Regions from separate parts of the Homo sapiens genome. Here region 2 is linked to region 1. The links come from fine-mapping of genetic effects on gene expression. A gene starts in region 1. The other region holds a variant in brackets. All regions are shown on one strand. Distances are between the middles of the regions.

Region 1 (5,288 bases):
TGCCAGGAACCATATCAACAATGGCAGCATCACCAGACTTCAAGAATTTAGGGCCATCTTCCAGCTTTTTACCAGAACGGCGATCAATCTTTTCCTTCAGCTCAGCAAACTTGCATGCAATGTGAGCCGTGTGGCAATCCAATACAGGGGCATAGCCGGCGCTTATTTGGCCTGGATGGTTCAGGATAATCACCTTGGAAAAAAGATTTGCATTCAGTGCAAATCCAAAGTCTCAAATGACTTTAGCCTCTGCAATAAGTTAATGTTACTTTAAATTGTTACCTGAGCAGTGAAGCCAGCTGCTTCCATTGGTGGGTCATTTTTGCTGTCACCAGCAACGTTGCCACGACGAACATCCTTGACAGACACATTCTTGACATTGAAGCCCACATTGTCCCCAGGAAGAGCTTCACTCAAAGCTTCATGGTGCATTTCGACAGATTTTACTTCCGTTGTAACGTTGACTGGAGCAAAGGTGACCACCATACCGGGTTTGAGAACACCAGTCTCCACTCGGCCAACAGGAACAGTACCAATACCTAAAAATATTTACAGCATACTAAATACCTATGAAGGCAGACAGTACTCTATCAACTCAAATTCAACTTTGTTTACAGCCAACTTACCACCAATTTTGTAGACATCCTGGAGAGGCAGGCGCAAGGGCTTGTCAGTTGGACGAGTTGGTGGTAGGATGCAGTCCAGAGCCTCAAGCAGCGTGGTTCCACTGGCATTGCCATCCTTACGGGTGACTTTCCATCCCTTGAACCAAGGCATCTGAAACACAAGCATGCCAATTTGTGTAAGCATGAAATCGCCATTCCCAGAGCTTTTTAACAATGGTCTTGAAAGCCACTTACGTTAGCACTTGGCTCCAGCATGTTGTCACCATTCCAACCAGAAATTGGCACAAATGCTACTGTGTCGGGGTTGTAGCCAATTTTCTTAATGTAAGTGCTGACTTCCTTAACAATTTCCTCATATCTCTTCTGGCTGTAGGGTGGCTCAGTGGAATCCATTTTGTTAACACCGACAATTAGTTGTTTCACACCCAGTGTGTAAGCCAGAAGGGCATGCTCTCGGGTCTGCCCATTCTTGGAGATACCAGCTTCAAATTCACCAACACCAGCAGCAACAATCAGGACAGCACAGTCAGCCTTTAAAGAAAGCAAAGACATATCCCTGTCAACTCTCCAAATGACAAAACCAGTGTACAAAGCAAGCCTTTTGGGATAAAGAAACCTAGAATTATTAATCCCACCAACCTGAGATGTCCCTGTAATCATGTTTTTGATAAAGTCTCTGTGTCCTGGGGCATCAATGATAGTCACATAGTACTTGCTGGTCTCAAATTTCCACAAGGAGATATCAATGGTGATACCACGTTCACGCTCAGCTTTCAGTTTATCCAAGACCCAGGCATACTTGAAGGAGCCCTTTCCCATCTGTAAGGATTAAGAGTCGTTACTTGGTTACTAAAACACAAACTCCAGCTTCAATTTCCTTGTCCCCAGCCCTTAATTGGCAGTTTCCACTTTACAACTCCAAGTCCAAAGTGATTTTAGTCACTTTGGGTTACAGAAGCAACCAAAAATCAAACTTTTATAAGTCGGATCTTAACTATTAACATCCAAATCTACTCACTAGCAATACGATTACAGAAGTCACCAAAAGCAAAATTATTTCATAAGTAAGGTCTTAACTATTAGCATTCAGATCTAAACCACTCACTAGTTCTGGGGAAATCACCTAATGATTCTGCTGGTAAAACTCATTTTAGTTGATCTTTCCCTTTCTGGTATTAAACATACCTCAGCAGCCTCCTTCTCAAATTTTTCAATGGTTCTTTTGTCGATGCCACCGCATTTATAGATCAGATGGCCAGTAGTGGTGGACTTGCCCGAATCTACGTGTCCAATGACGACAATGTTGATATGAGTCTTTTCCTTTCCCATTTTGGCTTTTAGGGGTAGTTTTCACGACACCTGAAATGGAAGAAAAAAACTTTGAACCACTGTCTGAGGCTTGAGAATGAACCAAGATCCAAACTCAAAAAGGGCAAATTCCAAGGAGAATTACATCAAGTGCCAAGCTGGCCTAACTTCAGTCTCCACCCACTCAGTGTGGGGAAACTCCATCGCATAAAACCCCTCCCCCCAACCTAAAGACGACGTACTCCAAAAGCTCGAGAACTAATCGAGGTGCCTGGACGGCGCCCGGTACTCCGTGGAGTCACATGAAGCGACGGCTGAGGACGGAAAGGCCCTTTTCCTTTGTGTGGGTGACTCACCCGCCCGCTCTCCCGAGCGCCGCGTCCTCCATTTTGAGCTCCCTGCAGCAGGGCCGGGAAGCGGCCATCTTTCCGCTCACGCAACTGGTGCCGACCGGGCCAGCCTTGCCGCCCAGGGCGGGGCGATACACGGCGGCGCGAGGCCAGGCACCAGAGCAGGCCGGCCAGCTTGAGACTACCCCCGTCCGATTCTCGGTGGCCGCGCTCGCAGGCCCCGCCTCGCCGAACATGTGCGCTGGGACGCACGGGCCCCGTCGCCGCCCGCGGCCCCAAAAACCGAAATACCAGTGTGCAGATCTTGGCCCGCATTTACAAGACTATCTTGCCAGAAAAAAAGCGTCGCAGCAGGTCATCAAAAATTTTAAATGGCTAGAGACTTATCGAAAGCAGCGAGACAGGCGCGAAGGTGCCACCAGATTCGCACGCGGCGGCCCCAGCGCCCAAGCCAGGCCTCAACTCAAGCACGAGGCGAAGGGGCTCCTTAAGCGCAAGGCCTCGAACTCTCCCACCCACTTCCAACCCGAAGCTCGGGATCAAGAATCACGTACTGCAGCCAGGGGCGTGGAAGTAATTCAAGGCACGCAAGGGCCATAACCCGTAAAGAGGCCAGGCCCGCGGGAACCACACACGGCACTTACCTGTGTTCTGGCGGCAAACCCGTTGCGAAAAAGAACGTTCACGGCGACTACTGCACTTATATACGGTTCTCCCCCACCCTCGGGAAAAAGGCGGAGCCAGTACACGACATCACTTTCCCAGTTTACCCCGCGCCACCTTCTCTAGGCACCGGTTCAATTGCCGACCCCTCCCCCCAACTTCTCGGGGACTGTGGGCGATGTGCGCTCTGCCCACTGACGGGCACCGGAGCCTCACGCATGCTCTTCTCCACCTCAGTGATGACGAGAGCGGGCGGGTGAGGGGGCGGGAACGCAGCGATCTCTGGGTTCTACGTTAGTGGGAGTTTAACGACGGTCCCTGGGATTCCCCAAGGCAGGGGCGAGTCCTTTTGTATGAATTACTCTCAGCTCCGGTCGGGGCGGGTTGGGGGGGGTGGTGACGGGGAGGCCGCCTGGAAGGGACGTGCAGAATCTTCCCTCTACCATTGCTGGCTTAGCTCCAAAGGTTGTATTGAGATTAGGGTGTACCTTCGCCTCTCAATCAGCCTCCCGTCCTCAGCCTTGCCATCTCGCTAGTCCGGGACAAATCCCTAGAGCGTCTTCCTCTGCGGGTCTCAGCCCAGCCCGGGGTTGGCTCCTCCTCCGCCCCGGCTTCCGCGCCCCTCCCGTGTGGCAAGGAGTACCAGGCCCGGGGACCCCGAGGGGCTTGGGGCGAAGGGTCGGGACTGGGGGCCTCCTTAACGGCTCACGGACTTGCGAGAGGTTCGGCTCGATGGCCGTGAAAGCGACGAATCCGCTCCTGTGCTGGCCTCTTGGCTCCTTCCATTCAAAGCCAGCTGCTTTTATGGAAGCCCGTAACACGTCATCTCCCCCTGGTACTCCAGATGTCCAGGCTTTCAGTTTAGAATAGACTCAGTCCTACAGTTAGCTTTAGATCTAATTCTAGTTTTGTTACGCCAAAAAGTTCCTGCGAGTGTGTGTGTGTGCCTCATGGTACTTTTTAAATTAAAAGGTGTACAGTTATTTGATTGCAAACATAAGGAACCTAAAATGCTTTCAGATTTTCCACATGATCTCATGTAGAGGCTAAGATCTACAGCATCAGCAAGTTTATCCACCCAGTTTCCTAACCCCAACACTTGCTATGAAGTCACAGCTTCTCCTATTTAAATAAGTGCCTATTATATTTAAATAAGTGCTGTCGTTTTCTGTCATCCTATCGATTGTAACTGCATTTTAGCATAAATCTAGGGCAAGATTGGATGAGCTTGGCCTTTTTGGATGGCTATCAAGGCAGGCCTTGGGAAATGCTCCTCTGAGGAAAGAAGAACGTTTATTTTTAATGAGCTAATTACTAGATCATTATGTTTCTTCTTCCAGCTGTAGAATATCATTGCCCAGCTTCTCGAACAAACTTATTTATTAACAAGTATTTGAGAACCTACTATGTGGCCAACGCTAAGTACTGTGGAGTTCCTTCTGGAGAGGAAACCACAATCAAATTGGAAGAGGAAAACAAGTTGGGAAGCAGTTGAAGGCAAACGCTATGGTGCTTTCTTGGTTTCTGTATCTTTGTAGTGTAGTTTTTCTAGTCCTTTCAGTTTTCACAGTCCACTTTTTTTTCTTTCTTTCTTTTTTTTTTTTTTTTTTGAGACGGAGTTCTACTCTGTTGCCCAGGCTGGAGTGCAGTGGCGCGATCTCGGCTCACTGCAAGCTCTGCCTCCCGAGTTCAAGCGATTCCTCCTGCCTCAGCCTCCCAAGTAGCTGGGACTACAAGCGCGCCCCACAAATTTTTGTATTTTTAGAAGAGACGGGGGTTTCACCATGTTGGCCAGGCTGGTCTCGAACTGCTGACCTCAAGTGATCCACCCGGCTCGGTCTCCCAAAGTGCTGGGATTACAGGCGTGAGCCACGGTGCCCGGCCACAGTCAAAGTTTTTCCTCAAGCCCCTGTGATTGCGGATAATAGTAAACGCTTTATAAATACCTTACACAGAATGTTTTTTAAAATATCACGCAAGGAATGACAAAATTACATGAATCCTTGATTTATACCTAAGTAACATATTGTGCAACACAGACTGGGTGTTCTGAATGTTGCGATAGTGGCCGAGACTTTCATTAGGTGAAGGGAGATCTCAATTCTCGCGTTTAAGAACCAACACTGGACCGGGCGCGGTGGCTCACGCCTATAATACCAGCACCTTGGGAGGCCGAGGCGGACGTATAATTTGAGGCCAGGAGTTCGAGACCAGCCTGGCCAACATGGTGAAACCCTGTCTACTGAAAATACAAAATTAGCCGGGCGTGGTGGCGCATGCCTGTAATCCCAGCTACTTGGGAGGCTGAGGCAGGAGAATCGCTTGAGCCCGGGAAGCGGAG
Region 2 (5,000 bases), 230 kb after region 1:
GCAACCAATTATCTACACAGCAGTAAAAATAATCTCAACATTAGCTGGATCATGTTATTCCCCAGCTTAAAACTGTCCAAAGACTTTCCACTGGCCTCAGAACAAAATTCAGATGTTTTACCATGGCCTACACAGGGTCTTACCTGATCTGACTCTGTTTTTCCCATCTCATCTCCAGATTTCATAACTCTCTGTAAATGTTAATTCACAGCTTTTATCATAATTTGTAATACATACTCACATATGTGGTTATTTGATAAATATCCTTCTTTCCACTAGATCAGAAGGTCCATGCGGGGTTGTATTCCCATTACACCTGCCACTCAGGCGCAATGAATATCTCTTGAAGGAATGGATGAATGAATGCATTTGTTGTGTTTGGGCCTCAGCCCTGGTAATTCTGATTCAGTAGCTCTGGGGTAGGAACTGGACACCTCTATTTATTAAACCCACCACAGCTGATTCTGATGCTGAGTTTGGGTTGAACCCCATAGAGAAATATGTTGCAACTACAGTTTAGACCACAGGTGTTTAGACTCTAAACAGGAAAGGGAAGGAAAGGATGATGTAAATGTTAATAAACATTTTCTCTCATTTTGCAAACCCTATTGACTCTGTCATTCCTCTAAGTAGGACAGTGTACATCAGCTGACACTTTTACAGGATGATATTTCCATTGTGATTTCTTTTTTATTTTTAAGCTCTCCCAATTTTATGGTAAAAATAAAAGAGGGGAAAAATAGGGTATTACATGATTGCTATTACGTAGGCAATAGGTTTAGGCATAGTCAGGTTAGTAGGGATCGGAATAAAGCTAAAAATATGAAGCTTTTGTGTTGTATGCGAGGGTGGGAAGAAACACCAGTCAGTACACATCTAAAGGTGACAAGACACAGACCTGGCTTTCAAGGAGCTTACAATCAGAAAAGCTTCGTGTAACAAATGCAAAGAGCATTAGATTAGGAGTCCTAAGACCTGGGTACTGTGCTCTAGTTAAGTGATGGTGGGCATGGCATTTCAGCTGTGGGTCTCCGTTTCCTCAGCTGTAAAATAAGGGGTTTGGATCAAGGGATTTTTAAGGATCTTCACAACTTTACAAGTCCAAGATAGGGCTGGAGGGGACTGTAGGATTTGGATGGGAAGTGGTGGGCTCTGAGCTGGCTGACAGGGCTGTGGGGCTGGGAGCAGGCACTGGCTGGCATGGAGGGCTTGTAGAGAGTAGTAGTTGAAGAGAAAGGTGGGGAAGTTTGTGGGCCGAGCTGTGGAGGATATTGGCTATCAGGCTGAAATTTTGTATTTCATTTTGTAGACAACAGGCAGCTCTAAAAACTTTTGTGTATTTTACTTTGAATTTCAATCAGTGATGCAAATTTCAATATAGGACTTCTGAGGACAAAGGAAACAAAATGTGTGTGAATGGGTCTCTCAAATTATAAAAGTTATAGGATCATACCTTCATAATTTTCCTCTGGTTATAAAAGTAATGCATGAGTAAGGTAAAAACATCCAAACATGATAGTGTAGAAAGTATGACACCCTTATGGTAAACTTCCAAACAAACAAAAATCATCAGTATGTGTTGTCTTCTTATTGCTTTAGTAGAAAGTTTCTATGTAAAAGTATGACATGATTAAAGTTGTATTTTAGGAAGATCACTTTGGTGGCAGCATGTAGGGTGATTAGAGGGAGAGAAACTAAAGTCCAGGAGACTACCAGGGGGTTAGTATTATTGTTTAACAAATATACGAATACCTTCAATGTTAGCTTATAATCGAATACCTTCAGTGTTAGTAAGTTCAAAGGTAATGGGGGACTGCGGTAAGAGAGCAGAAAAAATTAAAGAGGAATGGATGAATTCAAGAGACACTTAAAGGCAGAATCATTAGGATTAGTGACTGGATTTCGATTGGAGCAGAGAAGAAAGAGGAGCAAAAGGTACCTGGGAATTTCAAGTTGGGTCTTTGGGAGAATCACCCATATCAGTTCTAGGGAAGTTAGGGATGGAAGCTCAGTTTGGGTGAGTGGTATGAGCTAGATGTATTTGGACTGAGCCATCAGAAATCACATTTAGGAGCAAAGCAGAGAAGCCATCCAAAGCAATAGAGAAAGAACAGCCAGTTTTGGGAAGAGAAAAGCAAGCAAGTTCAGGCACAGAGCAGAGGGCAAGAGATTCAGAGAGAGTGGCTTTCCAGGTGCTGCAGAGGCCTCAAAGGGAGTGAGGCCTGAGAAAGGTG[A/G]CAGGCGGTTAGAGGAAAGCAACCTGGCATACCGAGCATCTTCTGGGGTCAGTGAAATGGGAGAGGCAGAATCGAGATTTCAAGAGCAATAAAGCGCATAAATAGCTATACATAACATAGCTATGTAATGTAGGGTAATGTATATAATAGTCTACAACTTCTGTTCCTAAGAAGGAGAGAATTAATATGATTATCTGGTGGAGGCAGCAGCAATATAATTTCATTTATGTTATGGTATTCCTATTCTTACTTAACATATTCATGCCCAGTTATTTATGTGTAACTGTGAGGTTGAACATTTATTACTTGACAGGTGAAGTAAAAAAGCACATTATTTTTGTGCCATTTTGTCCTGTTCTTTGGGACGAATTCTTCCCTACTCCTTGGATAAAATGTAGGGAAAATCTCATCATTTTTATGGTTACTCTTTGGTAACAAAAGGTCCTGTCATGTTCGGTTACTTTCATATACACAGTCTACATTCAGTAATTAATATGTCCAGTCTAATAAAATAAAATGCTCCCTTCTCCAGCTCGGGTCTTCTTTGGTCTGGATGCCTGCCTCCAACTCACTAGGCTGCCTTTGACTCCTCCAGACTGAATTGGGTGGAGGAAAGAGAAGTGAGGGGTAACAAAATTCTCATCTGATGTATAAGGATGAGTCATGTGAACTTGCTAATATTTGTCCTGCAAAAATGTCAATTTAATATGGTTCAATGTAATACTGTTGTCATCTGCATGAGACCTGTCTGGGCTAAGACGGCATTTAAAACTACATTTTTCCTTTTTAGAACTCCTTTCTGTATTCCTAGGAGGACCCTTAAGATTGTGGGGAGGTCTTTCATCCAAAGTACCCTGGATGCTTTTGAATCTGTCTCCTCCAAATGGCAGCTCATAACTCCATCTTTAGCTGCTGGGCATCTAGATCACACACCTCAGCTTCCCTCTTCTGAGGGCTTGCCTTATTCCTACTAAGGCTGTTTTGATCAGGATAGAAAACAGTTCCATGCTGACTTGCTCTTTTGGCATATCTAGTTGAGGGAAAATGCTCATGCTTTCTCTGATCCTGAACATTCAGGAGATGCAGACCACTCCTAGCATAGCACACTCTTAGCTCCACTGCCAGCACAAATATTATACCCTTTAGAGTTTTCAGGTGTGTCAACAGCCTGCTCACTGACAGCTTGAGGATGCTCCCAGGGACACATACCTAGTTGTCTGCATTGTCTATGGAAGCCCGTTTCCCTAGGCTTGAAATGAGGGCCAAGCAACTCTACCTGATGCCCCAGGGTGGGGTGAGTGCCACTCCTAGCTCATCGAAAGCTCTCTCCTGAAATTCCCTTCTAGTTTTATTTTTATCTTGACCTTTCCACCTTGGTGATGGGTTAAGAGTTACAAAACCAGTTTTTGGAAACCTCCTTTACAGGTCCTGCATCCTTCACCTGTGGAAGGTGGACATAGTTGACATCTATTGTCTTGGGGGCTAAACGCAAAACTGAGTCTGAAATAGTTCCCTTTTAACCTCCCGTTATGTGCAGATTTAACAAATTCAGTGCCTTTCTTAAAGTAAAAGGTACATCCAGACACTGGAGAGTAGTGCTAAAACAAACTATTAGGGAATTGAAATGACCATAAAAGAACATAATGAACAAACAGAAATAATCCAACCAGCACCTTAGTTTTGATTCTGGCATTGCTTTTTACTCCAGAAGCAAGAGTTGAAAGAAACTGACCTGCATTTTAAAATATATTTTTTAATGGTCATGTAATATGCTATATTTCTTCAAATCTGTTAAAAATAGAAACTCAAGAGTTGGATGGCATCATGGTTAGGGAAGAAAAATTCTGTAACTGGAATAGATGGTTGTAGTAATTCACATGTCTCAATTTGTATTCTAGTCATAACATACTTCTTAAAAGGGTGGTAAAAATAATGTGTTTTCTCTTTCCCACTTCATTTGTCTAATTTCTGTAACATACACCCTCACAATGAATTATTGACTCAGGGACAAGAGGTAGAGAAATTACAGAGGTTGCTAAGAATACCTGCTGACTCTTATTTTCTACTTCTGCTTTAGAAGTTGTTTAGAAAATCTAATCAAGGCCGTCTTACATCCAGTAGAAACAGAGAGTTTCTACTGGATGTGCTTTGGAGCAGGTTTTTAAGAGAGAGCTTTCCCCATGGAAGAGTGACCATATTGGGGAAAGAAGAGCTCAGGAGACATGAGTTATGCTTCTCTTGCCTGGGGAGGTGTTTGCTTAAAAGACATGCTGCCCAAGTATTTAAGCCTTCAGGTTAGGGTCTTTTTTCCAGTTGTTGGCAGAGTGAATGAGCATGAACTGTATTTGATGAACTACAGTTAACACAAATACTCATTTTGAAGCAGATAAAATTATTTTGAAAGTGAAGGAAAATTGTTTCATAAGAGAAACTTGTACTTCCTACGAAAAGACTGTGTTTTTTTGCTCCATGTTTTTAGTAAAGTTTAGTCAAATTTAGTTTAGTTCACCTAGAACGAACACTGAACAATTTGGAAATACATTTTATTCCTTTTTTTAAACTAGAGGTTAGCAAACCCTGGCAGAAAAACCAAATGTAGCCTGACACCTGTTTTTGTGAATAAAGATTTATTGGAACATAGTCGTGCTCGTTTGTTTACAAATTGTGTCTGGCTACATTTGCATTGCAACAGCATTGTTAAGTAGTTGGGACAGAGACCATATGGCCTGCAAAGCCTAAAATATTTACTATCCCACTCTTTACAGG

Direction of the effects. Alleles are on the strand shown, and positions count from the first base shown. SD is a standard deviation of normalised expression in the study named.
In carriers of allele A in region 2, the expression in rectum of the gene that starts at base 2,961 in region 1 tends to be higher than with G alone (large effect, 0.86 SD a copy in CEDAR).

The links. PIP is the estimated chance that this variant, and not a neighbour inherited with it, causes the effect. A credible set is the group of variants that fine-mapping cannot tell apart.
Region 2: its variant is the best candidate, but not a certain one, in a credible set for the expression of EEF1A1 in rectum (CEDAR, PIP 0.71).

The regions. Positions count from the first base shown.
Region 1 is chr6:73,518,072-73,523,359 of GRCh38, forward strand. EEF1A1 (eukaryotic translation elongation factor 1 alpha 1) reads right to left here and starts at 2,961. Exons shown (of 8, transcript NM_001402.6): 1 at 2,929-2,961; 2 at 1,812-1,985; 3 at 1,266-1,445; 4 at 861-1,157; 5 at 627-777; 6 at 283-539; 7 at 1-193. The coding sequence starts at 1,955. RefSeq lists enhancers at 1,299-2,121, 2,079-2,378, 2,122-2,943, 2,669-2,778, 2,829-2,908 and 1 more and a silencer at 3,489-3,718.
Region 2 is chr6:73,748,254-73,753,253 of GRCh38, forward strand. The region is part of intron 5 of CD109 (CD109 molecule); the gene reads left to right. Among named protein-coding and RNA genes, the nearest start is that of CD109, 55 kb to the left of the region's middle. The variant A/G (reference allele first, on the strand shown) is at 2,235.